4 separate regions of the Homo sapiens genome follow, and regions 2, 3 and 4 are each linked to region 1. The links come from fine-mapping of genetic effects on gene expression. A gene starts in region 1. Each other region holds a variant in brackets. All regions are shown on one strand. Distances are between the middles of the regions.

Region 1 (7,851 bases):
GCTGGTGGTGCTTCAGCGAGGGAAGGAGCGATGGGGGGACGGCAGGGGGGACTGCGGCGCCGGGCGCCGGGCGGCCGCCCTCGCCCCCGACAGGCGCACGGCCTGCCCCAAGTGCGGCGGGCGCCCTATTGCGCTGGGAGGAATCCACGCTCTTCCCGGGCCTCCTTCCCACCCGCAGGAGCCATCGGCGGCGTGGCACACCGAGCGCCCTTCTGGGGTTAAGCCACTGGGGATCCTGGCCTTTGTGAGGAGGGAGCCCTGGCCCGGGCCCCCACACTGGCGCCGCCCCAGCTTTCTGGTCTGAAGGCTCCTCCTGTCGCCCACCTAAAAGCAGTACGCAAATGTGTCTGGGCCTGCCTTGTGAATGGGGCCCACCACGGGATGTGGAGGTGCTCAAGGTGTGCCTGTGTGTGCAGAGCCATGTGGCTTCCTCGACCTTTTGGTGCTTGTATTGGTGTGCCTGCTGTGTGTGTGTTGGGAGGGTGTGTGTGCAAGGTGTATCTATTGTCTGTGTACACTTAAGGATGTCTCCCAGAGGGGTGGCTCAGGAGAGCGCTTATGTATGGACTTGGGTGAAGCTCACCAGCTCCTCCACAGGGGCTTCACCATAGCCCCTCGTCTAACTACCTCCCGCAACCTCTTCCACCACCAAGACCAAGCCCGGGATCTCCCAGGCCCTGCCTCAAACTTCCCAGCTACCCAAACTGGAGTGCCCAGCATCTCCTCTGCTGTCTTCTTTTCCCAAAAGGTCTCTCCAATAGTTGAGAACACTGAGCTTTAACAAAGCCTAGGGGTGTCTATCTCCAACCCCCAGAACCTCCAAGGCCTGTGGTTTCCCATGCCCCTGCTAGACGCACCCATGGTGGGTGGGGGTGCCCATGGTAACTCACACCATCAGGTAAATGGCAGAGTACCAGCTCCATGCATTGGCTCATTAAGCTTTGCAAGCATCAGGTATCTGGGGTACTGTTGAGTTCCTGTGCCCAGGCATGGAGGAAGAGTGGGAGTTAAAGATCAGTCTCTGACCTTATGGGGACCTTAGCCTCTCTGGGAAAGCAAAGCTAATGTCCTTGAAGCACAGTGCACGTCAGGCCAGTCCAATGCCAATTCATGGTGCTGGGTAGATGGCAATGAGCATTTGGAGAAGAGAAAAATCTTTGCATACAAGTAGGACGAAGGAAGGCTTCCTGGAGGAAGTGGGGCCTGGGCTGGGCTTTAAAGAATAGGTGTGATTTGGACAAGCAGAGGGAAGGCAGAGGGCAGGCAAAGGGCATTCCAGGTAAAAGAATCGGGGGCAGGGGCTAAGAAATGGGAGTGAGCGGGGATTCTGGAGGTTAGCAGGCAGACTGGGCAAGTCACTTCCCCAGGTTCCCAGCAGCATGACCTATGGCAGACAGAGGCAGGCCACCCACCCATCCCCACCGTGTCAGGGCCCAGGCTCTGTGTGTGGGGGTGTGTGGGGGGTAGTCTAGGCTAAAGCCCTGGGAGAGATTTGGTAGCAAGGGGATCTCTAGGTCCCCTTTCAAGCTAGGGGTGGTGGAGGAGCAACCTGGACCAGATGTCCTCCCTGACATTTCAGATTGACAGTGGGCACCTAAATGAACAGTGACAGCCAAGAGCACAACCAGGGCCAGCAGAAATCAGGCTGCAGGCAGAAAGGACCCCCTGGGCAAAGGCATTCTGAAGGGTTTAGGGTCAGTACCCTTCAGTCTTCAGGGCCCAACTTCAAGTAAGTGTTTCAACAAACTCCCCTAGGCACTAGGCTATGGTCCTGCCCTCACCTGGATTCTCACAGTGAGGCCCCAGCAGACCCCCAAACTTGACCCAAGGGCCTTGTTCCAAAGCCCACGGCTCCTCCCCAAGAAGGAGAAAAAAGGGGCGTGGCCTTTGGGGACCTGGGTAGGCCCAGGACTCCCTGCCTGGGTATGTCAGGATTTGCCCCTCCTCCTTCCGGTCCCTCCTCCACTCCAGGGACTGCCAACTCCTTCCACACGCCCCTTCTGGGGCTCCCTTGCCACCCCACGCCACACCCCAGCCTCAAGACCCCTCTCTTTGGGGTCTTGAGGCCGGCCCAATATACCCACTATACCCAGCCCAGCTGCCCCAACTCCTCTGGGTCCCCTAACCCCACTCCACCCCCACCCCAAGGAAACCAAGCCCAGCTTGCCTCGTTCTCTCCACGCACCCACCCGAGCACCCCCCTGGCGCTGCGCCATTCCCCACATTCATTCTCTTCCTGTTCTCATGAGCACAATCCCTGTCCCTCTTTCTGAAATACTTCCCCTATTGCCCTCACTTTCTCACAGAGCGGCAAACAAAGACTCACATACCCAGAAATAGCCTCTCACAGAGCTGAAAGGCACAGGCCATGTCCTGCCACACACGCAGGCGCGCGCGCACGGAGGCTGTCGTGGAGGGAGGCACACATACAGGGCGTCTGTCTGCACGCACATAAGCTGCCACGCCACAAAAGGGCGCGGACACACACGGCGTGTGAGACAAGGGCACACACAGCAGTGGACGCAGGGCCACGCCGCCGCCCGGGCACACCCACCGCCGCCGGCCCCGGGCAGGCGCGAGGCCTCGCGGGCCGGGCTCCCCCGGTTCCTGCCAGCGAATGTTTCCCTGCTCGGCCTGCCAGGTCTCTGGGGAAAGGGCCTCAGAAATGCAGCAGGAGCCGCTGGGGGAAAAGTTGGAACTGACTGTTCCCTGCCTGGCGCGGCCGGCGAATTCCCTGACGGAGAAACTATTTGTGGCGAGAGCCGGTGGCCGGCGACCCCCCGCCGCCTCCCCTGGCGTCCCCTCCCCGCGCCGCCTCCCGCGGGCCTCGGCGGCTTCGGGCTGCAGCACTGCTGCCCAGCGCCCGCGGCCGGGCTGGTCGGCGCGCCTCGCCGCTTATCTGCGCTGTTTGGACAGCGGGCTTGGAAAGGCAGGCGGCCCCGTCCCCGCCGAGTCAACAGGCAGACCCCGGGCCGCCGGACTATTTCTGTCTTATCAGTGCAGGAATGCGGCAGCCGCGGCGGCGGCGGCGGCGGCGGGCGGGCGGCGGCGGCGTGGGCCGTGGGCCGTCAGGGCAGCCCTGAAGGGGCCCCCTCCCCACTCCGCTCGAGTAGAAGTGTGAGAGAGCCCAGCAGGACTCAGAGGGGAGAGTTGGAGGAAAAAAAAAGGCAGAAAAGGGAAAGAAAGAGGAAGAGAGAGAGAGAGTGAGAGGAGCCGCTGAGCCCACCCCGATGGCCGCGGACGAAGTTGCCGGAGGGGCGCGCAAAGCCACGAAAAGCAAACTTTTTGAGTTTCTGGTCCATGGGGTGGTGAGTGGGGGAAAGTTAGCGGGGGAGGGCAAGCGAGCTGGCTCGGGCTGAATGGAGGGCTGATCGGGAGGGGCCGGGAGGGCGCTCCCGCTCTCCCACCCCTCTAGTGGGGGGCGTCATGGCCCACGGCCCGGCCGCGGGACTGTGCTGGCGCCCTGGCACCCGAACACGTCGCCAGGCGGCCGGCCGGGTCTGACGCGAGGCGGGGAAGGGAGGCGTTTGCATGGCTCTTGTCAGGGGCGGGGGTGGGACTTGGGGACTCTACCCCCCAAGTAGGGGGTCCTCGCTGTAGCCGACAGGTTGACTTTCGTTCTTTTCCTTGTGGGCCCAGGTGTTGCCCCTGCCCTGGGGGTGGGGGTGGGGGATGGGGACATGGCAGAGGCTGGGCTGGGCTGTCTGTTCATCCGTTGGGACAGTGTCACTGCTTGTGTCTCCGGAGCAAGGAGCAGGTGACCCTGGAGGCACTGTAGCGGGAAGCTCGCAGGCTGAGCCACCTCTGCATCCCAGCGGGAGGGCTCTGGAGCTTCTGCCTTAGGGTGGGGGAGAGGACCGCTCTAGGGACTTAGCCCAAGTTAGGGGCTCTGAGGGTCTCCTTGGCGGACTCAGCCACCAGAAGCTGATGTCCTTAACTCCTCGAACATGTGAAGGAAGGGGCTGGAGTTGGGGACATGAGGCCTAGAGACCGAAGGGACAGGGGAGCACTGTCCTGCCACAGGCAGGCTGTGAAGGCACGTGGGAGCCCGGGAGGCTGGAGCTGAGTCAGTAGGGCCCGGCTGGGAGGGGTATGGAGGGGTGGGGAATGGGAGAAGCAGGGGCTGCGACTCTTGGGATGGGTGAGGGAGTGGAGGCCCTGTGTAGAGGAAGCTGTCGGGTTTACTATGGCCAAATTTGGTTGTGACCCCAAGGAAGACACCCTCTCAGTAAGGCCAGAGTCCCTAGGATTTTGGCCTTTCATGGGGATGGGGCTGGTGGCGGGCACAGCTCTCTGGGGGCTCTGAAAGCCTCCCTCTCAGGGCCTCTTCAGCAGATGGGCCAGTATCCCTGGCCTTGATAACTGGGGAGAGCAGCTGACAGGAAGAGGGGGACTCCCTGGAGTGGCCTGTCCTCCAGCCCCAGGGACCCCTGGGGGTAACTTCCCAAGGTGTCCATGTCAGCTAGCTGAGTTACCAGTCCTAACCTGGCTGCTGGTGGGAGCCCCTTTAAAAAGGCCCATCTAGTGGGGAGAGGCTGTACACGTGGACTGTTTTTTTAATCTGGTCAACTTACAGCTTCAGTTCTTGAGTGGCTGTGAGCCCCAGTGCCCCACCTAGCTGGTGGCCAGGCCTGGGCTCCATTCTGGGCTGCTACCCTGGAGGCCTGAGTGACAGGGTCAGGTGGGGTGAGGGAAGCAGACACATGGACAGGCAGGTTTCACTGCAGGAGAGATAGGCAGAGACAGCTGCTGACCGAGGGTGGGAGGACATTAGGGTTAGACACAGAGCCTGGAGGACCAGGAGGGAGAGGTAGCAGTTGGAAGGAAAACAGCAAGCCCAAGGGGGCCCCTCCTCATGCCTGGGGGTGAGGTGGGTGGTGTGTCCATGTTAACAGTGCCAGGGTCTGCATCCCCTGCCCTCTGATCTTCTTCCTGCTTTCGTGGTCCCAGTCCCCATCCCACCCCGCTCTTTCTGTTTCACAGCCCCTGAAACTCTCTCTGGCCCTCCCCATCTCCCTTCTGGAGTCTGGACAAGTGGGGTTTGGAACACTTCGCTCGATGCATTTGCATCTCATTTACACCCCATCTGACCACCCAGGGGTAGTGGCAAGGGAGGAGGAGCCGCCTCCTCTCAGTCTCCACAGCCCCCATGAACCCTGACTGCTGACCTCACTGGGGTGGGGATGGGAAGAGGAGGAGGTGGCTGCTGACCTGGGCAGACAGGAAGGGAAATGTGAGTGCAAGTGTCACTGCCCTGACCCACCCCAGGCCCCCCTGGGCAGCCCACCTCTAACGCAGTTCCCCTCCTCCCAATCAGAGAATCCTGGCTGTGTCTGGGGCGCCCCAGCAGGCTGCCCTTGCCTGCCCTGCCTCCAGCCCTCACCCTGGGAGCAAATTATGGGGGCAGCTTGGTCAGCGAAGACCCTGGATGTGGGGACTTGGAGTCAGCCGAGGGGAGTGGGGTTTGGGACCCAAGGGTCAAAAGCAGGGACACAGGGAGCAGAGTGGCTGAGATGAGCTAGTGAGTACCAGGCAGAACCGCCCAAGAAGTGGAGCCTGAGAAGGAGGAGCAGGAGGAGGAGCAGAAGTCGGAGCAGGGAGCCGGGTACCGGACCTCAACCAAGCCGCAGAGAGCAAAGCCCTGGGCCCCCAGGAGGCAGCCCTTCAGGGGCTGCCTGGGCCAGGATGAGCTGTGTGACCTTGGCGAGGTCATTTTTCTCCTTGAGCCACAGTGGCCCCATCCGTCAAGTGGGGATGAAAGGACCTGCTCAGGCTGTCTTGCAGAGGAGCATGTGGATGTGAACATCTTTGAAAGGTTGAAAGGCGCCATTAATATTCATTTTTGCGGTACCTTCCGCAGCCCCGAGGCTCGCAATGCCCTGTGCGGTGCCTGGCTTCAGTTAGCTTCCTGCAGCCAGACGCCAAGCCCCTCCGCCAGAGCCGCGCAGATTCCGGCGCCCCTGCCCCTCCTACCCATCGCTCCCACCCATCGCTCAACGCTCAGGGTCACCAGCCGAGGGTCTGGTGGGGGAGGGGAGACGCCGGCTCACCGCGCCTGGAGCGGGGGGCCCTGGTCTGACCCACGGGCGCCCGTTTCTGCTTCACCCCCGCCCACCCCCAGCGCCCCGGGATGCCGTCTGGAGCCCGGATGCCCCACCAGGGGGCGCCCATGGGCCCCCCGGGCTCCCCGTACATGGGCAGCCCCGCCGTGCGACCCGGCCTGGCCCCCGCGGGCATGGAGCCCGCCCGCAAGCGAGCAGCGCCCCCGCCCGGGCAGAGCCAGGCACAGAGCCAGGGCCAGCCGGTGCCCACCGCCCCCGCGCGGAGCCGCAGGTGAGTGGGAGGCCCGGCGAGGAGGGGGCGTGCAGGGGCGGGCCCTGGGGGACCCGCAGGGACCAGGTAAGCGAGTAGCGGGGATTGGAAGGGGCGAGGAAGAATGATTAGCAGGGAGCGAGGCTTCCCGGGTCGAATGCCCTCTGGGGAGGTAGGCTTAGGGGGCACCGGCCTGATTCTTTTGTGTGCCCACGGTAGAGACAGGCTGCGGCGTCGGCAGCCGGTACCGCTTCCCTGCACGCTCCCCTCACCCTTCTCCTTGTCACCTGCTCAGTCCTTCTCTCCACCCATCAGGTTCTGGGTGATGCTTCAGTCTTTGGGGTGGGGGCGGGGCTTCCAGTGGGACTGAGGGCAGAGGTGTAGGACTGTGTTCCCCAAAGTGTGGTTCTCCGCTGAGCCTTCCTGCCGGCCCCCGGGCTGTTTCAAAGCCACTCCAGATTTTCTCAATGGGACTCTCTGACCATGGGGGTGGAGCTTGGGGATTTGCCCTGTGGGTAGGTGGTCTCTACCCAGTCCTGCTCTTAATTCTTAGGCACTCTGGCCCAGGTCTGCTCTCAAGCCACCAGGGCCAGCCCATTTCCTTGCTTTCCTCCAGCAGCTGGTGGCACCCTCAAAGCCCCTGCTGGCTCCTGGCAACAGCAGTGCCCCTCCGGGTTTCAGTATTTAGCCAAATACACATGCTTTTTTTGCACAACAGATGGGTTTCTATAAAAGGTGTAATATCAATTTTACCTCATTATTATTTTTTACACATCGGGGAAAAAATCACCACTTATAGGAATCCCATGATGAATTCTTTAGTAAAGTGCATCGTCATTTTGTACAGCAAATGGTAATTCCCTGATTTATCTTGTATAAATGGAGAGTTACACATAGATAATCTGTTTAAAACAAACCAGACCTTTAATGAAATCCGCTTGTTAGCCTTAGATTTCTGCATAGGGAGGGGGCAGTGCTTGAGAACACCACACGGGGGCAGTATGGAGCTATTCTCTGGGCTGCGTTTTCATCTCTTGACCCGCCAAGGTTTTTCTGGGGGTTTTTGGGTTAGTTAGAAGCAGCTAGTGGGTCAGAAAGAGCCCACATCCAGCTGCTACTACCCCGGGCCTAGTCAATTTGGCCTCAGCCTGAAGTCACACCCATGCACATTCTGGGCGCCTATGGCTGCAGCATGTCCCTCACCCTGTTGCCAGGTAGTCCCAGGGCATGAGTACCCCCAGCCCATCAGCGTTCTCTTCCAAGCCCAGGGTGGCTGGAAGGGGTGCAAGTCCCGCCAGCTTCACACCGTCACCTCCCGCTCCATGGATAGGAAGGAGTTCGTCTCTCTCCCTCCCTCTGAGCTTAGGCCCCTTTGGACAGGGCACCCCCTGCTTTCCAGAAAAGGTCTTCAGAACCTGGCTTCCCTCTCCTTTGTCCTCCCTCATCCCCACCTTTCCTCAAACACTTCTGCAGCTCGCATCTTTTGGCAGCACCGCCCCCACCAGCCAGTCCCTCCTGTCTAAATTTCTCTGTCCCTGA
Region 2 (7,851 bases), 22 kb before region 1:
GTCCACCTGCAGGAAAGTCAAGGCCTCCAAGCAAACGTCCCACCCTTATCCCCAACACCTCCCCAGCACCTGAGGTGAACTGGGGACTGGTTGCTCAGTTTGTGGTGGTTGGTGTTTTAGCTGAAATTCATAAAGAAAAGGTGAGAACTAGTATATTAAACCAAGCACTCTACAGTTCTGGGGTGTCTGAGGTTAGAGGCCAGGTTGAACGGGGGGCAGGCTGATGGGAGGCAGCTAAGCTTCCTGGAGGGGTGCACCTGAAGTGGTCCCCCACGTGGAGAGTCCTCCTAATATTTGACATGCCCTTCGTTAGGCCCTAAGGGGCTCCCCAGCAGCAGTCGGAGGGAGCCTTGGGCTGTTCCAGACCTTTCCTGAAGGGTCACTGCAGGATGGGCACAGGGGAAGGAGGGCAGAGGAGGCCTGTGAAGATTGGAGCTGGAGCCCTGGGGCAGTAGGTCCATCCTAGTGACACCTGGCCCCAGAGTGACCCTGGCCATGAGTCAGAAGCCCCAGCTCCAAGAGTGACAAGGTGGTGGAAGTTTGGCATCTTATCTTGGAGTTGCATTCACATGCAATCGGCGGTGTGCGTTGCAGGCTCTTGGCAGCCAGGCAGGCACTTGGGCATTTGGATGCTGACAGGCCCTGGTGCTGGTGCCTAGGCGTCCGTCCTCACCCCAAAACTGGCGGTGTGACTGCAAGTGAGTGCTCATGATTAGTGAAAATTAAGTGGTGGAGATAATGAGCTAGAGGTGTCACTGGGAGGAGGCTGAGCCACCCATCGGGGATGAGTGGACTTCCCTCAGCTGTGGCTGGACTCCTAACCATCTGGAATTGCTGTACCAGAGGGGCCAAGCTGAGGCCACCGCCTGCCTCTGACGGGTACTTGGCTGAGGGACATCTTGTAGGGACCATTGCTGTGTCCCCCTGTGCTCCTTGCTAATGAGGGGTGTGGGAATCCTTGGTGACTCATAAAGGACCGTAGAGGAGGGCTGATCACTTCAGCCAGGCCCACATTTTGGGATAGCGCGTTCGGTTTCTTGACTTTCCAAGCTGTGACACCGATTCTTGGCACTCTACACTTACTTCCAGGGATTTGAGAACGTGCCTCATGAGCGTGCGCCCCACACAGGCCTCCTACTGCAACTTACAAACTTGGACCATCTCCCATGTGAACCTTTTTCCCAGACTGAAGATCGTTCTGGGAAAATGCCCTAGAGTGAGGGACACTGTGCCATAAGGGAGGGAGAGGAAGACACAGGGAGGTGTTCTTATGCTCCGCCTCATCCTGAAAAGGGTTTCAGGTAGTTTGCAAAGATACATATAGTGAGGAAACTGAGACAGAGATAGAGTAGAGAAAACATGGTGTTGCCTAGGATGTGGCTACTGCACCAAATGCAAACCACGAGGCCCAGAGACCCCGATGCCAGCAGAGAAGCAAGCAGTTACATGATTTACACTGTGCATGAGATAAAAATCAAACAACTTGCTCAAATCACGTGATTTCTGGTCCCGAGCCACTGGGAGGTCTCTCCTGTATGAGGAAATGAAGGGGATACCATGTGACAAAGTTATGCAATGTTCTCAACAATGTCACAACTGCTTCCTAGGGCTAAGGCAAGGACCAACACAATACTCCCCAGCCATAAACCTACTGGTAATATTGCTTAACCCAAACTTAAAATTTGGAGCAACTAGAGGAATGCATTGCTACCTTCAGGAAATACCCTCTTTCTCTTTTGTAAGAGACAGAGTCTCACGCTGTTGCTCAGGCTGGAGTGCAGTGGTGTGATCATGGCTCACTGCAGCCTCCAACTCCTGGGCTCAGGCGATCCTGCTTTAGCCTCCTGAGTAACTGGGACTACAAGCGTAAGCCACAATGCCCCCTAGCTTTTGTTTGTTTTGTTTTTATTTTAGTAGAGATGAGGTCTCACTATATTTCCTAGGCTGGTCTCAAATTCCTGGGCTCAAGCAATCCTCCCACTTCAGCCTCCCAAAGTGTTGGGAGGCATGAGCCATCGAGCCTGGCCAGGAAATACTCTCTATATTGATATTTACAACAATGTTTCTGATAAATATCAGGCAGCAGGAAGGTTTATTTAAAATTGGAAATTAAGTACAGAGTCACATTCTCCAGGTAGGGGTAATATCCTTATAGGAAATAAAGAGCTCCTTAAGCACACAGGCCCCACAGGTGAGTTTGGGTATGAGGAGGGACCAGTCCTGGTCTTTCCCCACAGGTCCTGAACCCATGGAAAAACAGGCACAGGCATCAGTTAACTTAAGTGCAAGGAAATTCAAGCTGAAGAGAGGCTTGAACCTGAGGCCCAAGTGTAGAAGGCAGGTCCTACTCCCTAACCTGGGTTTGCTTACCTGGGCATGGGAACAGAAGGAGATGATCTGTGTCCTAAAACAGACTCGTCTAGAAGAGGAATGCTGGCCACAGGGTAAGCAGCCTTGCCTTCAGCACCTTCACCCCACCCGCCTGGGAAAGGGATTGTGCGGCTGGTGCAGGCCCTCACCACCTCATCAGACAAAGCCTCCTCCCACAGGGAGGAAGGGTGGGGAGAGGGCCAGGGTCATTCCAGTATCTCCTCTCCTGGGAATACAGTACATGTTTCCTTGTGAACACATGAAGACAAGGGAGTAGGGCCCCTCTGCAGTGGGGTGGATGGGCCACATTGCTAAACAGTGATATTGAGGCTCAGGTCCAGACCTGAAGTGACCAAGTCCACCCCCTTTCTTACCTCTCCATTGGAACAACTGCCACATCCTTTTATTTGATTTTATTTCCTAGATAAGTGTCAATTCCATCTGCTTCTGATTTCCCACGTCACTGCCCTGGTCCACACACTGTGATCTTCTGCCCCCATCTGAGTGCCGCATACTCAGCCTTGTCCCTGCATCAGACCCCGGCCCAGCACAGTAACGAGAATGGGCTTCCTAAACACAAATCTGATTTGTTCCGCCTTCCACTTCCTAGTGGCTTCATTCTCGTGCCCTCACTCAGGGCCCTCACACATGCTGTTCCCTGCACCTCCGACACCCTTCCCAGCTCCCTTCACCTGGCTAACTGCACTCATCCTTGAAGCCTCCACGTCAGTTCCACCTCTTCCAGGGAGGCTTTCTCCCACCCGGCTTGGGCGTGAAGGCCCACCCACTCTCTTCTGTCTTGCAGCACCTACCAAAGAGGCTAATACTGAGTTGCAGGGCTCCTTAAAGGCATGGCTGCATCTGTCTTGTTCCACACAGTACAGAGAAGTATTTCTTGAATGAATGAGCAAATGTGTGAGGCAGTGGACAGAGAGGGGGTGGC[T/C]CTACGGCTGATTCTAAAATGAGCCCCAGATCCCTCTTGGTGCTGTCAGCCTCACCCTCTCTACACCACCACGATGCAAGAGTGGGCCTTTCTTGCCTGCCAACCTTGTCCTGCTGTCGCCTGAGCTGCCCTGTGCCCCGCGTCTCCCTCCTGTAACTCCGTGGTTGGAGGAGTGCTCCATGCTCATTCCCTCTTCAGTTATTCCTATGGTGAGGGAGAATGTCACTCCCTCTGACCTTGGGTTTGCCTTTTGGAGTTGCAGGGAGAAACCCCTTTCTCCCTCCAAGCCATCTGACCACCTTTCAACATTTGGAGGCAGCTTTCGCACAGGCTCTGTCTCCGCTCGGAACATCCAGCTCTGGCTCTTTCAAATATTCCCAGCCTTCGTGCCCCCTGGGGAGCGCTGAAGATCCCCCAAGGCCATGGCCCACACTTGGAGCCACCTGTGCCTGTGCTAGAAGGTGAGCTCTCCCTTTCCAGCCAGGCAGATGGGGAAGGGGTACTCAGTTTTCTGAGTGACATGTCTCATCTGTAGAATGGGACATCATGCCCTTCTATAAAGAAGCAATGGTGATGGCGGACCTTCTGCACAATGCCTGCGTTCACCGAGCGCCCCTCGCCACTGCAAGTGTTCACATGGGATGCTGAGCGCTGTCCCTGCTCCAGGTGTCATCTGTGGACCCCAGAGCACCATCTAATGCCACCGATGCCTCCCTTGGTTGCAGGTCCCAGCCTGCCATTCATGCTGCCCGCATACGCCACTGGCCACCACCCAGACACGCAGAAGTCCATTCTTCCTGTTCCATATCTGTCAGCCCCAACATGGAGCTATCTTAGCTTTAGCCCATCTTTCCAGCCCACAGCTCCCATCCAGCCTGATGCAGTCTGCAGGTGTGAAAGGCCTGTCTTCTTTGCCTTTCATAAAGTTTTTAATTGGAAAAAAGAAAAAGTGAGCCAGCAGGGCGCAGGAGAGAGCCCTGTGGTCCCTGGAGATGGCTCAGGGTGGGCCGGCAGCTGAATCCACAGCAGGGGACTCGAGGGTGTGTAGGCTTGAAGGAGGTGCTGGTGGGTCGGAAGGTGTCCCCCGTGGGGGCCTAAGTAGATGCAAGAGAAGCTGAGCTCCAGCTTCAGGTCTACAGCACCCACTCCACTCTGCCCAGCAGGAAGCAGCACTGTGCTTTTGCCTTTTCCTGCCTCAGTTTCCCTTCTAACTCCCCCTTCACCATCACCTCACTTGCATCTTACCCAGGCCTCTTCCTTCAAAAGAAAAGTCTGTCTTTGAGACACTTTAGATCCATTCAGTGGGCAGGGATGTCTCCCCCTGCCACCTGCCATCACAGCCCCCACCTCAGATTCAAGAACAGCTGCCACAAACACAGTGACCTGCAGGAAGTGAAAGAGTGAAGTGACTGGGGGCAGAGTAATAGCAGCCAGTAAAGACTGAGGGATCATTGTGGGCTTTGAGAACTATTTCAAGAATTTTAGGCCAGTCGCAGTGGTTCATGCCTGTAATCTCGGCACTTTGGGAGGCCAAGGCAGGAAGATCGCCTGAAGCCAGGAGTTCAAGACCAGCCTGGGCAACAAAGCGAGACCTCATCTCTACATTAAAAAAAAAAGAGAGAGAATTTTGTGTGGTTTAATTTATCCTAACCACAACACTATAAGGTAAGTGCTGTTATAATCATCATCCTCTCCAGATAAGGAAACTGAGGCACAGGGCATGAAGGAACTTTCCCAGTGGTCAGGGCAAGAGTCCCAACTGGGGTCTCTCCACCATATTTAGCCCTCAGAAATTTGCTGTGCCCAAACCTCAGGGGCCCTCACAGAGACAAGACAGCCACCCCTTTATTCAGGGTCTCAACCCAGCCCCTCCTCTTTTGCCCCCAGCACTGAGGCTCAAGGTCAAAGGCCATTTATCATCTCACACACAGCCTGTTCCACTCATTGACTTTCACTGCTGTGTCCCTAGGGTCATTTGAGTTTGTAACCCCTAAAATAGGGAATGGGGAGGAGATGTGGCAAATCGGAGGGCTCTCGCCCCTCTGAAAAGGGGCAGCCCCTCCTCAGCTCCACCCGATTGTCTCTAAATGGACTGGTGGTCTGGTCTTGCCAAATTTCTCATTTTTTAAGAGATTCTGGAAATCTGGCTTTGATGTGAAATCTCTCAGTCTTTAAGGTTGGTGCCTAATTAAAGTGTTTAGGACACAGTGAGGGCTGAGCAAAACCTATCTGCCCTGCCCAGTTCGTAACACTCACCTTGAGCTTTCCTTGCCTGCCACTTGTCCCCTGTCCTCCCTTCTATCCCCCAGCCCAGAAAACAAACCAGCATTTCTCCCTGAGAACTCAGGGCCCCCAGTTTGAGAAACACTGCATTAAGAATTGCTGTCACTTTATTTGTTTATTTATTTATGAGACAGGATCTCAGCTCTGTCGCCTAGGCTGGAGTACAGTGGTGCGATCATGGCTCACTGCAGCCTCAACATCCTGGGCTCAGGCAGTTCTCCCACCTCAGTGCCCCAAGTAGCTGGAACTACAGGTGTGCACCACCATACCCGGCTAATATATTTAAATTTTCGTAGAGAGGAGTCTTGCTATCTTGCCCAGGCTGGTCTCAAACTCTTGAGCTCAAGCAATCCGCCCACCTCAGCTTCCCAGAGTGCTGGAATTACAGGCTTGGGCCACTGCACCTGGCCTGCTGTCACTTCAGTTGGCTTCTTGTCAACAATGAAATTATAAACAAAATGCAGAGTCTTTTCAAAAACTTGAGGACCCTCCCCCTAGAACAGATCTGAATCCCAGTTTGAGAAGCAGTGCTCATAAATCCTCATGATGGCTGCTAATGGGAAGGGCAGGGGCTGTTGTAGAATCCCTCTCAACTTGTCTGTGTCTTAAACCCGGAGTACCAACCCCTGAGGACTTCGCAGTACATTCGATAACGAATGGGGGAGCAGTCAGATAGTGACTCAGAAAGAACACGGACCTTATGATCAGAAAACAGGAGTTTGAGCCTCACTTTCAACATTAACTCGCTCTCCAGCTCTGAATCAGTCTTTAAAGAACTCTCTACGCCTTGTGTTCCTGTCTTTAAAATGGATACAGTAATAGTCATCCCTTCAGTTTCCTGGAGTGTGGAGAGAACCAAATTGGATAATGCATGTTGAACTGTTTTGTAGGCTAAGCTCCATGAAGCTCTATGTGTTAATTTGGAGGTGTTTGACAAAGTGTTTCCCTATATCTTTAGGGTATGATACATAAACGTGGGCTGGATGCAGTGGTGTGCGGGTAAATGTTTAACAACTGGCTCTTGGCAGGACGGGGAGTGGGAGCAGAACTCCGGTTTGTATCGTTCGCCAATTCCTGTGGTATAAATACCACCAGCTGGGTGCAGTGGCTGGGCCTGTAATCCCAGCGCTTTGGGAGGCCACTGCGGGAGGCTCGCTTCACGCCAAAAGTTCAAGACCAGCCTGGGCAACAAAGCAACACCCCATTTCTACAAAAAATTTTAACAGTTAGCCAGACATGGTGGCATGCACCTATAGTCTCAGCTACTCAGGAGGCTGAGGCAGGAAGATGGCTTGAGCCCAGGAGGTCCATGCTGTAATAAGCCATGATCACACCACTGTACTCCAGCCTAGGCGATAGCCAGACCCTATCTCAAAAAACAAACAAACAAAAAAAACCTCCCATATTGGCTGATGTTAAGCCGCTGACATGACACACTAGCACATTGCCGGCTGGATGTTACGATAATTGGGCAAATTTGCTAAGAATTGAAGAAAGACGAAGCCCCAAAGGGTGTACATTAGTCTGGAGAGAGAGAGCCTTGTCTTGCTTCCTGTCCCTTTCTCAATACATTCAGCAAAGATATAGATGCAGATCGATGGTCACACTCACTGGATTTGTAAATAACACACAGCCAGAAAAGATGGTGAATATTTTGGATAACAGAATTAATATTCAAAAGCTGTCAACATTCACCTTCTAGAAATTATGGGCTAATTCTTAGAAGATGAATATTAACAGGAGTAAATGTTCTGTGTCCATTCTTGAGACAAAAAGACAACTTTACAAGTAGGGGATAGGGAGACATGTTTTGCGTAGAGTAGAAAAAAAAAAATGGCCGGGTGCGGTGGCTCACGCCTGCAATCCCAGCACTTTGGGAGGCTGAGGTGGGTGGATCATTTGAGGTCAGGAATTTGAGACCAGCCTGGCCAACATGGTGAAACACTGTCTCTACTAAAAATATAAAAATTAGCTGGGCCTGGTGGCACGTGCCTGTAATCCCAGCTACTCAGGAGGCGGAGGCATGAGAATCGCTTGAAACCAGGAGGTGGAGATTGCCGTGAGCCGAGATCACGCCACTGCACTCCAGCCTGGGCAACAGAGTGAGACTCCGTATCAAAGAAAGAAAGAAAAGAAAAGAAAAAATTGAGGTTAAATTGACAATAAGGTCAATTCAACTCCACAGTGCAACGGGTGATTACCAAAGAGTGATAAATTAATGGCCATGATGACTTTACTCAGTACTCTGTGACTTA
Region 3 (7,851 bases), 43 kb before region 1:
GGAAGAAGGAAAATGATACCAGATGGAAGCACAGTAATGCAATGAAGAATAATGATCCTGGGAAAGAATAAATAGGTGGGAAAATCTAAATCTAGATCCTGTAAGGACTAAATGCCTGTCCTTGGAGTACCAAGTAACGGTGCAGCATGCGCTGTTCATCATGAGCTGAGTTTACCTAATCCACCAAGTCATAAAGCTGAATGTGTGCAGCTTGCATTGCATAGCAGCTGTAAGAATAAGCTCGCTCAGGTCCAGAAGGTACAAATAATTGCCCGGGTCAGCAGCTCAAACTTTAATGGTATCCACTCCTACTTTTTTGCTACCTCTCCCTCAACTCACAACTATGGCTTCATAGTGAGTTCCCTCTGCCTACTTAATAGACGATGAAGAAAAATCAATCTATTGTTTACAGAAGGGTCATCAGATGGAAGTGTATGACCACTGCACTAAGTTCCATGCAGAAATGGGCCCAGAAGACAGTAGTGAAGGGAAAGCCTCCCAGTAGACAAATTTTAGCCAATCTAGTTGTCTGCTTTGCTTTGGAGGCAAGATGGCTTAGGGTATGGCTCTACATTGACTAATGGGTAATGGGTAATAGATTGTGTGGCTGGTCAGGAACTTTGGTCAAAGCCAGAAGACTGGTGACCAGGAAGTCTGGGAAAGAGGTATGTGGACAGAGGTCCCAGAATGGGCACCACATGAAGATACTCATGTATCATGCACATTCCCATCAGAGTCACCCACTGCAGAGGAGGCTTTCAATGATCAGGCTGATGAAATGATCAATTCCTCCTGTGAATGTCAGCCAGCTTGTTTTTCCCCTACCCAATCCTTCCTCAGTAGGTACCCGCCACTGGGGCTCATATGGATGCCATTACCATTGAGTTCCCAAACTGCTAAATACTAGAAATAACCAACATTGAATCCCTGACATTGCACCATCCACAGGAACCAGCCAGCCCCCTGGAAATAGGTTGATGCTAACTTTGTATCACTCCTTCATGAGGCGGCTATCAATTTGTCCTCTTAAGGATGGAGTCCTTTGGAGTAACTAACAGAATTTTATTATTAAAACAAACAAACAAAAGAAGAGTGGAGTCCTATTCCAGATACAGACTTGCTTTCCCTACTTGCACTGCTTCTGCCAGTCCCACTGTTTGAAGATTTCCAGAATGCCCTATTTATTGTCATGGTAACCCCTACAACATCATCTCCAACCAAGGAACTCATAATAACAAAAGACCTGTGGCACTGAGTTTATGCCCAGAGAATCCACTGGTCTTACGCTGTGCCTATCGCTCAGTTGCAACTGTGTGGGTGAATCTGGGAAATGGCCCACTGAAGGCTCAGTTATGGCACCGAGTGGAGGACAGAACCCTGTGAGGCTGGGGTGCTCCCCTAGACGATGTGGTAGATACTTTAAGCCAATGGCCAAAATATGGTGCTGTTTCCCCTATAGCCAGAATACATAGGTTCCTGTTCTTTGAGAGAGTATTCCTGGAGACTCAATTTATTTGTTCTGAGGGAGATGCTGGAGATTTGAAGAGAGTGGAGAAGGCAGGAAATAATCATTTAGGAGTAGAATGGCTGGGTCATATGGGAGACATGTCAAGAAGCTGCCAAGCCTTTTTCAGTATTTGCTCTGCCTTCCTGCCAGTGCTTGGGTTGGTCAGTCTTCTTGATTTTAACCAATGTAATGGGTGTGAGTTGGGTCCTTTTTTTTCAAAATTTTTTGTTGTAGTAAAATACAGATAACATAAAATTTATCATCTTAACCATGTCTTAAGACAAAGTCTTGCTCTATCTCCCAGACTGGGGTGCGGTGGTGCAATCATAGCTCACTACAACCTTGAACTCCTGGGGTCAAGGAATCCTCCCACCTCAGCCTCCTGAGTAGCTAGGACTACAGGCGTGTGCCACTGGGCTTGGCTAACTTTTAAAAATTTTTCTTAGAGACAGAGTGTCACTCTGTTGCCTAGGCTGGTGTCCAACTCCTGGCCCCAAGAGATTTTTCCACCTCGGCCTTCCAAAGTGCTGGGATTACAGGCATGAGCCATGGTAAGTGTTCTCTCTCAATCACTTTTTTTTTTCTTTTTTTGAGACAGAGTCTCGCTCTGTTGGCTAGGCTGGAGTGCAGTGGCACGATCTCGGCTCACTGCAACCTCCATCTCCCGGCCTAAGCAATTCTCCTGCCTCAGCCTCCCGAGTAGCTGGGATTACAGGTGTGTGTCACCATGCCCGGCTAATTTTTGTATTTTTAGTAGAGACGGGGTTTCACCATGTTGGCCAGGCTGATCTCGAACTCCTGATCTCAGGTAATCTGCCCACCTCGGCCTCCCAAAGTGCTGGGATTACAGGCGTGAGCCACCGCGCCCAGCCTCAGCCACTTTTAAGAGAGAACACATCTTGTTTTCACTCCATTGGAAGCTGAAGCCTCCTACTGGCCAGGTTGGGCTTCTCGTGCTGCTGAATCCATAGGTGTCAAAGGGGGTCACCATACTGCTCAGGTACCCAGTTACCAAGGGGAATTGGCTGCTGCTGTGGAATAGGGGTAAAGAGAGTTCTATCTGGACCAGAGCACTTGCTGGGGCGACTCATAGTTGTTCCTGTCCAATAGTGATGGTCAGTGGCCACAGTGGCAACCCCATAAAGATAGGGCTGCTAAGGGCCGGGCACGGTGACTCACGCCTGTAATCCCAGCACTTTGGGAAGCCGAGGCAGGTGGATCACGAGATCAGGAGATCAAGACTATCCTGGCTAACATGGCAAAACCCCATCTCTACTAAAAATACAAAAAATTAGCCAGGCGTGGTGGTGGGTGCCTGTAGTCCCAGCTACTCAGGAGGCTGAGGCAGGAGAATGGCGTGAACCCAGGAGGCAGAGCTTGCAGTGAGCCAAGATCGCACCACTGCACTCCAGCCTAGGCGACAGAGTGAGACTCCATATAAAAAAAAAAAAGACAGAGCTACTAAGAACTTGTATCTTGTGGGGATGAAGATTTGGGTCAACCAAGGAGGTAAAATCAGAGCAGCAGAGATGCTGCTTCCACCAGTGGGTGGAGGAAGGAAGCCAAAAGGATCAACATCAACTTAGGTCTTATGACCAGCAAGATAGAGCTTTTTTTTCCCTTCCCTTTTTTTCCTGTTACTTTATATGAAGAGCAGCCCTGGTCGCTAACATTATTGCTTTGGCTCCTATTGGGAGTATGATTGAACTGAAATCACCAATAATCCAGTGGCTGATGGGACTTTGTGTTTCCCCTGGGTGGGGGTCATGGGATTTATTCCTCTAAGCAAGGGACAGAAATGCTTTTTGTCCCTCCTGATCCATTCTCTATCCTTCTCCTGCTTCATTTATGCCCAAGCAAGCTGACCTCTACAGACTGCATTACCCCAGCTCTCTTATCTTCTGGCTTCTGGTTGGATTTGCCAATGCAGGCCCCAGCAGAAGACTGGAGGTGTGGAGGAAAGGTGAGTCATGGGATTTATCCTGATTTTGGCAGTGGCTGCATGTCCCCGTAGTTCCTATGACACACACCCTCTTCCATGGTCTCAACTCCAACATGGTTCTGATAGCACAGCCCTGCTCCTTGCCCCTTGGTCTCCCTTTGGTGCTGGGGTCTGGGTGCTTTACCATCATCGTTGGTTCCCTTAGCCCTGCCCACCTCTTGTTAAGGGGCCCTTCATTACTGCTCTTTAACTAAACCCTCTTTCTGTGCCACATCCTTCCTACCAGGAGTCTGACTGGTCCTGGGACCTTTAAGAATTCAGCTTTGCCAAAGCACAAAGTTCAAGGTAGGAAGAAATGGTAAGAAATGAAGTGTACAGGGCAGGCGCGGTGGCTCACGCCTGTAACCCCAGCATTTTGGGAGGCCGAGGTGGGTGGATCACGAGGTCAGGAGATCCAGACCATCCTGGCTAACACGGTGAAACCCCATCTCTACTAAAAATACAAAAACAAAATTAGCCAGGCATGGTGGTGGGCACCTGTAGTCCCAGCTACTCAGGAGGCTGAGGCAGGAGAATGGCGTGAACCCGGGAGGTGGAGCTTGCAGTGAGCCGAGATTGCGCCACTGCACTCCAGCCTGGGTGACAGAGCGAGACCCCATAAAAAAAGAAAGAAAGAAAGGAAGGAAGAAAAGAAGAAAGGAAGAAAGAAGGAAAGAAAGAAAGAAAGAAAGAAAGAAAAAAGAAAGGAAGGAAGAAAGGAAGAAAGGAAGAAAGAAG[G/A]AAAGAAAGAAAGAAAGAAAGAAGAAAGAAAAAAAAGGAAGGAAGTGTATAGGGAGAGTGATCAATTATAAGAAGCTTTGGATGCTGTGATAACGTCAGCTACAAGGCATTGGGCAAGTTACCTAACCTCCCTTACCCTCAGTGTCATCACCTATGGAATAAGGGCAATCATCAGACATGCCTTTTGGAGTGCCTATGAGGATCAACGTAAAGAACACACATAAAGCACTCAACACAGTGACAGCCACAGCCAGGGATCGACAAATGTGAGCTGATTATTGTTAGGGATGGTGGCTCACGGCAAGATTTTAAGCAAGGAAGTGATCAGGGCCAATTTAGTAGTTCAAGAAGTTACACTAGAGGAAATGTAGAGAAGCAGTGAGGTTTGTCAGAGGCCACATGAAGTGCAGCAAGACTAGAGGCAGGAATACCAGTAAGGAGACTACCACACCAGTCTTAGCAAAATAATAACAAATAAAATACAATTATGAGGATCACCCCAATAAGGAATTAAACTAAAAAAGAGGAAGACATGGAATACAAGAAACAAGAATTCTGACGCAACACCTGGGGCCTATAGATACTTGTGTTTTGCTGAAGCATCAAATGTGAGGCTGCCCCTCCCCCAGTTCCACCTTCCATTGACTGAGATCCAGGCAGAACCCTCCTACATCTCTCTCTCTGCCACCTCCCCCGTCTTAATTCCTGATCATTTGGCTTTTTATTTTTTTATTTTATTTTATTTATTTATTTATTTATTTTTGAGACAGAGTCTCACTCTGTTGCCCAGGCTGGAGTGCAGAGTCATGATCCTGGCTCACTGCAACCTCCGCCTCCCAGGTTCAAATGATTCTCCTGCCTCAGCCTCCCGAGTAGTTGGGATTATAGGCACACACCACCACACCCAGCTAATTTTTGTATTTTTAGTAGAGACAGGGTTTCATCATGCTAGCCAGGCTGGTCTTGAACTCCTGATCTCAAGTGATCTGCCCTCCTCAGCCTCCCAAAGTGCTGGGATTACAGACATGAGCCACCACACCTGGCCAATTCCTGATAATTTGAATGTCCATGTAGAGGATCCTTCCAGGACCCCAGCCTCTCAGTTCCTACCCTCCTCTCCTCCAATGAGCCTGCCCTTTATTCTCCCTTCGCATCTCATCTCCCTAGCCTTACCCTAGACCTCTTCATTACCAATGACTGCAGCCTTTCCACACCTAAATAACCATTCCACACCTGCTCTTCTCCTCAAACCTCCAAAATCTCCTCCCCTATCCTCACGCTCAGTTGATAATTTTGCTTCCTATTTCACTGAGGAAATAGCCATCAGAAGAGAACTTCCACATGCTCCCACAACTATGCCTCACACCTGCCTGTTTGGTGCCCATATAAAACTCCTTCCCCACGTTCTCTGCAAAGTCATCCCCAGAGACCCTGATTTCATGGGTCTGAGGTGTACTAATGGCGATTTTTTTTACAACTTGATTTTTTTCTCCAGGTGATTCTAACATACATCCAAAGTTGAAAACTGCTGCTATAGATGAATGACTCCTGCTTTGTCTCAGGCTTACTCAAGAAAACTGCCCCAACTGTTGTCTTCTCCCTCCCCCAGCATCATCAATGTTTCCCTCTACTGGCTCATTCCCATCAGCTCACAAACATGCTGTTAATTTCCCCACTTTAAAGAAACCTTTGCAACCCCATTTCTCCCTCCAACTCCTCTTCACAATAAAACTGCCCTAAAGGGCTCTCTCTAGTTGCTGTCTATAATTCCTCTTCTCCCCTTCTGGCTTTGCCCTACAGACCCATCGAAACTTTCACCAAGGTCAACAAATGACCTCCTCATTGCTACAGGCAACAGCCAAGTCTCAGTCTTCAACTTACTGGGCCACCAGCAACACGTGACATGGTCGATCACTCTTCTCCCTAGAACGCTTCCTCTAGAGTTGGTTTCTAAGATGCCACATTCTTCTTGTGGGTCCTTCTCAGCCTCCTTTCCTGGCTTTTCCCTGTATCTGACCTCTTAGTGTTGGAATGCCCTAGGACTCAGGCTTTGGGCCTCTTCTCTTTAAATGTTCATTCCCTTGGTGAGCTCACCCAGTCTCATGGTATAAACTACCAGCTAAATGTTGACTCCTAAAAGTGTATTTCCAGCTTAAGCTCCAGCCTCCTACATCCAAGTGCCAGCTTGACATCTCTTTTGGATGTCCAATAAGCATCTCAAACTTATCCTCCCAACCTTCCTCATGTGAGTAACAGCAGCCCCATGCTTCCAGCTGGGATCAGGCCACATCTTTAGGGCCATCCTACCTTCTGTCTTTCTTTCATACCCATGGGCAATCTGAGAGCAAATCCCACTGGCTCTACTTTGAAAATATACTCAGAATCGAACCTTTTATTCAAAACATACTCAGAATCCAGTCCATCTTATTCAAACCAGCCATTGCCTCCTACCTGAGTGATGGCACTGTCCTTCTAACTGGTCTCCCTGCCTTGAGTTAAGGGCCATAGACTGTGTCCCTCACAGTCTATGCTCAGTATGGCAGCAGACTGGCCCACTTACATGAATATCAGATCATGTCTATCCTTGCTCAAAATGCTACAGTGGCTTCCCATCTGATTCAGGGTGAAGGACAAAGTCTTTTTTTTTTTTTGAGATAGAGTCTTGCTCTGTCGCCCAGGCTGGAGTGCAGTGGCGCGATCTCGGCTCACTGCAAGCTCCACCTCCCGGGTTCATGCCATTCTCCTGCCTCAGCCTCCCCAGCAGCTGGGACTACAGGCGCCTGCCACCACGCTGGGCTAATTTTTTGTATATTTAGTAGAGACGGGGTTTCACCGTGTTAGCCAGGATGGTCTCGATCTCCTGATCTTGTGATCCACCCGCCTCGGCCTCCCAAAGTGCTGGGATTAGAGGCGTGAGCCACCGCACCCGGCCGGGACAAAGTCTTTAAATACCCACAGAAAGGCCTGTACAACCCATCCTCTTCACTGCCCCCTACACATCGAGGCCATTATCTCTCCGACCTCACAGTCCATCAGCCACATTGCTGTTCCTCTAACAGGCCCTGAAAATCAAGGGGCGTTGTACTTCGTTCCCCTCCAGCTCCCATCCTTCAGTTAAACTTCTTATGTGGGGATAATTATAGATTGACATGCATTTGTAAGAAATAATGCAGAGATGTGTATTTTTTGTCCAGTGTCCCCAGTGGTGACATCTTGCAAAACTATAGCACGGTATCACAAGGAGGAGAGTTGTGTTGGTTTCCTGTAGCTGCTGTAACAAATCACCACAAACTGGGTGGCTGAAAACAAGATAAAGCTACGCTCTCACACTTCTGGAGATCAGAAGCTCAAAGTCAAGGTATAGGCAGGGCTGTGCTTCCTCTGGAGACTCCAAATGGAATCCGTTCCTTGCCTCTTCTAGCATCTGGCAGCTGATCTAATCCTTCTTTCTGTGCTCTGCCTTCCCATCACCTTTTCCTGTGGGTCAGAGTGTGTGTGTGTGTGTGTGTGTGTGTGTGTGTGTGTGTGTGTGTGAGAGAGAGAGAGAGAGAAATCCCTAACAACACTGGTGATGCCATTTAGGGCCCACCCAGATAATCCAGGATAATCTCCTCTCCAGATCCTC
Region 4 (7,851 bases), 62 kb before region 1:
GGGGACTGGCGCCTGACTCAGCCTCCTGGGTCAACGGGTGGGGAGCGTCCCGGGGCTCAGGCTGCCTCATCTCTCTCCACCCCTGCCCCCCTTTCCATCTCACACCCACACTCACACTTACAAACACACACACTCATACCCACAGTCACGCACACACCCACACTCACGCACATGAACTCATACACAACCAAACACACTCATACACATGCAGTCATACACTACTCCCCCTACACCACACACACACTCACAAATACACATTCACTCACACACACCAAACACCCATACACATACACATACACCACTCCCCCACACTCACACACACTCTCACACACACACCCCACACACACACGAACTCACACACACTCATACACAACCACACACCCATACACATGCACTCACACACCACTCCCCCACATCACACACATAAATACACTCACTCATACACACCCACCAAACACCCATACACATGCACACACACTACTCCCCCACACAACTCCCCCACACTCACACTCTCACACCCTCCCCACACATCCCAAACTCACTCCCACACACACGAACTCACACATGCTCATACACAACCACACACACCCATACACATGCACTCAAACACCACTCCTACACCACACACACTCACAAATACACATTCACTCATACACACCCACACATACCCATACACGTGCTCACACACCACTTCCCCTACATCACTCACACCCACCCTCACACACACGCATTCACTCATACACACCCACACACACCCATACACATTCACTCACACCTCTCCCACCCACTCACACACAAACTCAGTAACACATACCTTCACACACTCATATACACCCACATACATGCACTGACATACCACTCCACACTCCTCTACACTCACACACACACATCCCCACAACCCACACTCACACATATCCACACCCACACTCACAAATACGTTCATTTATACACACCCACACACCCATATACATGCAGTCACACTACTCCCCCACACTCACAGCCACACACACCTTCACACACTCATACATTCACACACCCACACACATGCACTGACACTCCACTCCCTCACACTCTCACACACACCCCCAGACATCCACACTCACACATTCACACACACGCACACACACCACTCCCTCACACTCACACCCCACACACATCCACACTCACACAAACACACACATTCACACATATATACACACGCACTCACATCACTCCTCACACTCGCACACACACACCACCCCCACACATTCATACACACAGAGACACACTCACCCACACACATTCACAAACTCTCACACACATTCACACACTCATATCCACACACACCCATACTCACACATGCACTCACACACCACTCCCCAACAGTCAGACACTCACAAACACACATAGCCCCCACACACTGACACACTCACTCACACTCTCACACTCACACACACCCTGTGGAAGACTAGAAAGAGCCCTGGACTCTAACGTGACACCAACATGGTCTTGCCTCTCAGGGTCTCAGGGGTCTGCCTCGCTATGGGCCTCAGTTTCCCCACCTACACAAGGGGATTGGACTAGATGATGCCTCTGAGCCCCCCCGCCCCAGCGTTAATTCTAGCTCTGCCCTTCAAGGAGGTTATCATCTAATAGAGGAAGCAGGAGATGCCCTCCAAGTCATGCCACAACGAACGTCTTGAACCCCCCTAAATGGAATGCTGGCATATTCCACTCCCAAATACACAGTCATGTGCTGCATAATGATACTGGCCAATGACAGACGGCATACATGACGGTGGTCCCATAAGATGATGGGACCCATACGATTATACCGTACATTTACTGTACCTTTTCCATGTTTCATTATGTTTAAATACACAATACTGGCCGGGTGCAGTGGCTCACACCTGTAATCCCAGCACTTTGGGAGGCCGAGGCAGGAGAATCACTTGAACCCAGGAAGCGGAGGTTGCAGTGAGCCAAGACTGGGCCACAAATACAATATTAGGAATGAAAATAAATATTACTAAGAATGAGAAAAAAGTTATAAATTTTAAAAAGTAAAAAATACCACAAACATTACAAAATCCAGAAAAATAAAATATTTTTATTAATTAACTGTCTGACACATATCTATAATTTTTTTTCATTTTTTGGCTATAGGCTCTTTAATTGACTCTTTAAATGACAACAATCTTATCAGAGAAATTAGAAAGACGATCTTTGCTCTAGCATGGTGGGTTAAAATTTAGCGATTTATTAATTTAGAAAAGTTTCTTTTAGCTTCTGTGCCAGTTGTCAACTTATTGTATCTCAGCTCCTAATACGTCCCTCATTGCCTGACCTCCTAGAATTGAGCTGAGCCTTGTAATTAGTTGCCCTTTGCCTGCAGCTGCATGTCAAGCTTTGTCAGTAGAGGGCGCTGAAGAGACACGGGAGGAGAAAGGGGTTTCTCTTCACTGTCTGGTGCACTCCTCTTGGGAGGCTCCTGCTGCCCATGAGGTTTCTCTACACCTGCTCCTGCAAGGCACCCGGCTTCTGCAGTGTCTGGCAGCTCCAGCAGCATGTGTGGCTTCTGCAGCACCAACTCCAATTCCCAGGCACCAGTAGCTTTCTCTGGAAGCCCCCTGGGCAGCTTTGCAGGAGTTTGTGGCCACTAGGGCACTGTCCTGGGAATTGCTTCCCCCTGCATTTTCTCCTGTGGCTTTGCAGACTGTTCTGAGACATGACGTGTCACTGTGGGTGATTCCTCTGATACCCCAGAGAGCAGATTTCCAGCTGCTTCTGCCAACCTGGCACCTCAGTGACTTCTCTGCCACGATCTCTCCCATCAGGTCTGGATCTCAGCCGTGGCAGGGACCTTCTTCTGGGGTGCTTTATCTCAGCCCTAAGAGTGATGGTTGTGCCTCTATCTGCCATTCCTGCATTTTTCAAGAGTTCTCTTAACTTCTTTCTAGCCAGGCCTTATTACTCCAATCCCCTGTTAAAGTCAATTCTTTTTTCTTTTTTCTTTTTTTTTTTTTTTGACTGAATTTCATTCTGTTGCCCAGGCTGAAATGCAGTGGCACGATCTCGGCTCACTGCAACCTCCGCCTCCCGGGTTCAAGCGATTACCATGTCCCAGCCTCCCAGGTAGCTGGGACTACAGGCATGCACCACCATGCCTGGCTACTTTTTGTATTTTTAGTAGAGATGGGTTAGCCAGGCTGGTCTCGAACTCCTGACCTCAAGTGATCCACCAGGCTCGGCTGGGTGGAGTGCTGGGATTACAAGCGTGAGCCACTGTGCCTGGCCTAAAGTTAATTATCTATGGGAAACATTCCTTGTACAAATTATCGTGTGGTTTCTGTCTCCTGATTGGAACCTGGCTAGTACAGCTTTACTGCCCTCTGTTGGTCATAATGATTGTATATCTGAAATATTATTTTCAAATCTGGGAAAATACCTGTCAAGTTTCATATATGAGTTTTAAGATTCCAGGGCATTTCATGGGTTTTGTGCTTAGTGGCTAC[T/G]CTTAAAAACCCTTTGAATGCATGGCAGGGTGTCCTCTGTGACATGGTGCTCTACAAACACTGTTGCCTCAATGTCAGCATTTCATGTCAAATTGTAAAGAAGTTCCATCCTTTTCCTGTATGTTCTTAGGATTCACTCATTGGTTTATCAAAGAACCCAAAAGCTTATTCATTGTTTCTATTCAAAATGTATCATTTCTCCTGAATCAATTGCTGCTTTTTATGTGATTGGAAAGGGTTTTGTTACAATTTGCTTCTCAATGTCCAAATAACCTCTATCAATTTTATCTGTCATCTTTATTACTTTTGTTCCAGATTTCATTAATTTCAAATTGATGACAAAAGAAGGTATCTTGTACAACCAAATCTAGAGTCTACAGTTTCTCACTGGTTTTATTACAATGTTGCAAAACAATTTTTTAACATTGTAGCTAAAAGGTGGTATTCAAGTTTTATCAAATATACCATTCCCATCAAAAAAGAAGCCTGGGCAATATAGTGAGACTCTGTCTCTACAAAATAAATAAATAAATAAATAAATAAATAAATAAATAAATAAATAAATTAAATTAGCCAGACATGGTGGTGCATGCCTGTAGTCCCAGCTACTAGGGAGGCTGAGGTGGGAGGATCACTTGAGTCCGGGAAGTCGAGGTTGCAGTGAGATATGATCATGCCACTGCACTCCAGCCTGGGTGACAGAGTGAGACCCTGCCTCAAAATAATAAAAAAAGAAAAGATGTGCCCTGTCTACTCTGCTGAAGGGATATGCAGTTGGCACTTCCAACACGGTCTGCTACAGACAAGTCAGAACTTATGATGGTTTTTCAGTTTTTCTGGGCTACACGGAACTTCCTTGGCACTCACTAAGGCTTCCAACACCGGAAGTTCTTCATCTATCATCACATATCTTCAGTCTTCATGGATCTAGGGAAACCCTCTTACCAGGCATAAATCACCTCCCACTGTACAAGCAGGAAATGCCAGACACTCACTCTTTTAGCCTCCCTGGCTGTGGCAGGACCCACACATGTCAAAGCTCCATCTGTGAGTTGCACCCTCCCAGACCACAGGCCAGATGCTAGTGGCCAAAGGAGGTGGGGACTCCACAGACTTGCTTGGTTATGATGTAGCTTTGAGGTTTCCAGAGGCTGCTGCAGGGCCAGTTCCAGCCCCCTCGAACAATAAAGGAGGTGGCTGCTGAGGCTAGATCACAAAACAGGGACAGTGGCCTGAGGAACGTGGCTGCTGCCCACGATTGGCAAGGAGGTGGGAGGGAGCTTCGGAGACACGGCCCCTCTCCTTTCACCCTGAGCACCCGCTGGGCCAGCCCTGAGACACAGAGCAGACCAGAGCGCTGGGAATGAACCTGGGGTAGGGTGGGGTGGGGAGAAAGGAGAATAACCAGCCCCTCAGGGCTTGGAATTGAGAAGTGTGAAACCACGTGCAAAAGCTTCCCTGGATGACCCAGATGAGGGATATTGATCCAGGAAGGTCTTAGCAGCAGATGGGGAATTGCACGCTGGCGGGCAGTCCTGGAAGCGGGTGCAGAGGGACCCATTCCTGCAGGTCATTCCTCTCAGCACATGGACACGGGCAGTTCCCACAGATGCCAGCAAGCCACCGCCTGCAGGCAGGATGGGAGGGCGCCCACCCTTGGGGTGCTTTCTGGCTGTACCCTGATGATGGCTGCAGCCACACATCTCAGAGTGCGGTTCATGGAATACTAAAAAATGTAAATGCTGCAATCAGGGCTCTGAAAATAATGTTGCTGGAATTATTGAGGGAAATTTACAAATTAAATAGCCTAAAAGGCTGCAAATGAAAATGACATTAAATTGGCAAGGACTTGTGGAGCACAAGAATTATTTGTCTTTCCTTAAATAAGAAAGTGGTCAGAGACTGGGTCACAGAGCCAAAGCAGGATGGAGGGACCCCTGCCTCATAATGGAACTAGATAGAGGCCCAGTCCTCCGCGACCCTGGCCAGGGCGCTCTCTTCCACCAGCTGTTCCCCTTGCTGAGGCACATGGGTTGGGGAGGCTGCTGAGTGCTTGGGTCCCACATGCAGTCCATGGGGCACAGGACCCATGACCCCAGTCTCACTGATGTTGCTCCCTGGCAGCTGGGCTGCAAACATCCACAGCAGGCCGGGAGACAGACAGACCAGCCTGGCAAGCAGGAGGCGGAAACCAGGCAGTGTTTTGGGCCATACATTGGTTTCCTGGGGCTTCCTACTGGCTTGAACAAAAGAGATGTATGGTCTCCTGGTTCTGGAGGCCAGAAGTTGGAGACCATAGTGTCGGCAGGGCTAGTCCCCCTCTGAGGGCACTAGGGAAGGCTCGGTCCCAGGCCTCCCTCCCAGCTTCCAGAGGCTTCACTCACTCAATCTGCACATGGCATGGCGTTCTCCCTGTGTGCCTGTCTGTCTCTGTGTCCAAATTTCCCTTCTTTAAAAGGGCACAGCCATATTGGATTAGCACAACTTATCTTAATCATCTACACAGATCCTGTTTCCAAATAAGGTCACACTCACAGATATGGGGGGTTAAGACTTTGGCATCTTTTGGGGGACACAACTTAACCCATAAGAGCCGGCTACTCTCCACAAGGGTATTTGGCCCATTCTGTGTATTAAGCACTGTGCCAGCCTCTGAGGGGAGGTGGGATGAATAAGATGAGGGCCCTGCCTCCACGGAGCTGACTCCAGCCTCAGAAGTGCTGCCAGCCTCACTTACCAGCAAACTTTATGCAAAACTGGAAGCCCAAGGCGTTTCTGAACAGAACCTGGCTCTGTGTCTCTCTGGGAGGCGTCTGCCCCCAGGGCTGCTCAGGGCCCTCAGGCAGGGGACAGTCCTGAGGACCCTGACCCAGAAAATACAGAACAGGGAGATGTGAACATTTGGAGAGCATGCGTAATGACCCTGAGCAATTCCATCTTCAACAGGAGCTCAAAATGCAGATCCTGAGTCAAACTGCAAATGGCAACCCCTCCCCTCTGGCCCACTGTCCCCTTTCCCACAACCGGACGCCCTGCGATGCCCCCGAGCTGAGTGCAGATGACCTGCAGATGAATGTCTTTGAGTGTTTATTCCTGAAAGGCTGCCCCTCCCCATGAGGACAAAGGGAGTGAGGGTCTAGAAACATGGGTTCTAAACCCAGCCCTGTCACCAATGAGCAGCGGGACCTTGGGCCAATCCCACCTCCCTCTGGCCTTTGCTCAGAAGTTGGGTGGCTCTAAGGTCCCTTCTGGTGCCATGATTCCGACTCTATGGGGAACACAGGGAGGGCTTGGTGAATCCCCACAAGGGGACCTATACAGCAGGACCCTCCACCCTTCAGTTCCCTGGAGGAAGCAGGATGTGTCCCTACCTTTACCTGCTTATTGGTCTTTCGATCTTTACCTGGTGGGCCTCAGCTGCTCAAGCCTCTTGGCTGTGATTGGGCTTAGGTGAATACAGTGAGGCCATTGTTTTCTCCATGGGATGTCTCAGATTAGGAGCAGAGGGTGGCTCAACCAGCCTTCACAATAGGGATACCTTCTGTACGTCAGCCCTTATCTTGAGTATTGGGCCAGCCCCATCACCTGACCCAGGGCACAGTCACCCACACACCTCGGGGGTCATTACAAGCTCAGTGTTTCCTGCCCCTGAGAGATTCCAGCCCTGCTGTCTGTCCATCTTTTACAAACCAGATGAAGTTTCATCTCCATGAAGCCTTCCTGGATACATTTTTTATATTTTTTTGGCAGGGTCTTGTTCTATCACCCGGGCTGCTGTAGTGCAGTGGTGTGATCTCAGCTCACTGCAACCTCCACCTCCCGGGCTCAAGTGATCTTCCCACCTCAGCCTCCCGAGTAGCTGGAATGGCAGATGCACACTAATTTTTTTTTTTTTTTTGTAGAGACAAGATTTCACCATGATGCCCAGGCTTGTCTCGAACTCCTGGGCTCAAGGGATCCGCCTGCCTTGACCTCCTCAAGTGTCGGGATTATAGGTGTGAGCCACTGCGCCCAGCACTCCTGAATGTATCTTGATGCAGCCAAACAGTATCAACTTCTCCTCCATCTCAGCCACAATACTTATTGCCTGGACTGTATATTGAAGTTCAAATCATATTCTATGTGATATTTAAACACAGCTTCAAACATACAAACCACAAAATGCCACCACCACGTGCCTTGCTGTGGGTGTCATTTCACTCACCGTGTTAAATGCTACCAGAGTTTTCAATCTGCAGACAGGATATTCAGTTCTGGGAAATTTTCATGTATGTTTACAAATAACTTCCTTCCTATTATATACTCGTTTTCCCAAAACTCCAACTTGGACATCCTGGATTTATCTTCTACTTCTAAT

Direction of the effects. Positions count from the first base shown, and alleles are read on the strand shown. Sizes are in standard deviations (SD) of each study's normalised expression. Not every link is listed here.
For the expression in gastroesophageal junction of the gene that starts at base 3,099 in region 1, allele C in region 2 goes with a higher level than allele T (small effect, 0.36 SD a copy in GTEx).

Evidence for each region. PIP is the estimated chance that this variant, and not a neighbour inherited with it, causes the effect. A credible set is the group of variants that fine-mapping cannot tell apart.
Region 2: its variant is the best candidate, but not a certain one, in a credible set for the expression of SMARCD3 in gastroesophageal junction (GTEx, PIP 0.79).
Region 3: its variant is the best candidate, but not a certain one, in a credible set for the expression of SMARCD3 in whole blood (TOPMed, PIP 0.52).
Region 4: its variant is the best candidate, but not a certain one, in a credible set for the expression of SMARCD3 in whole blood (TOPMed, PIP 0.60).

The regions. Positions count from the first base shown.
Region 1 is chr7:151,243,942-151,251,792 of GRCh38, reverse strand. It overlaps SMARCD3 (SWI/SNF related BAF chromatin remodeling complex subunit D3), which reads left to right and starts at 3,099. Exons shown (of 13, transcript NM_001003801.2): 1 at 3,099-3,308; 2 at 6,122-6,333. The coding sequence starts at 3,231. RefSeq lists silencers at 2,439-2,528, 4,576-4,870, 5,945-6,024, 6,045-6,344 and enhancers at 4,858-5,431, 5,432-6,006, 6,007-6,580, 6,581-7,155.
Region 2 is chr7:151,265,850-151,273,700 of GRCh38, reverse strand. It overlaps a transcript of SMARCD3 not described here. Among named protein-coding and RNA genes, the nearest start is that of SMARCD3, 21 kb to the right of the region's middle. The variant T/C (reference allele first, on the strand shown) is at 3,314.
Region 3 is chr7:151,287,033-151,294,883 of GRCh38, reverse strand. No RefSeq gene overlaps it. Among named protein-coding and RNA genes, the nearest start is that of SMARCD3, 42 kb to the right of the region's middle. The variant G/A (reference allele first, on the strand shown) is at 4,227.
Region 4 is chr7:151,306,223-151,314,073 of GRCh38, reverse strand. No RefSeq gene overlaps it. Among named protein-coding and RNA genes, the nearest start is that of NUB1, 32 kb to the left of the region's middle. The variant T/G (reference allele first, on the strand shown) is at 3,495.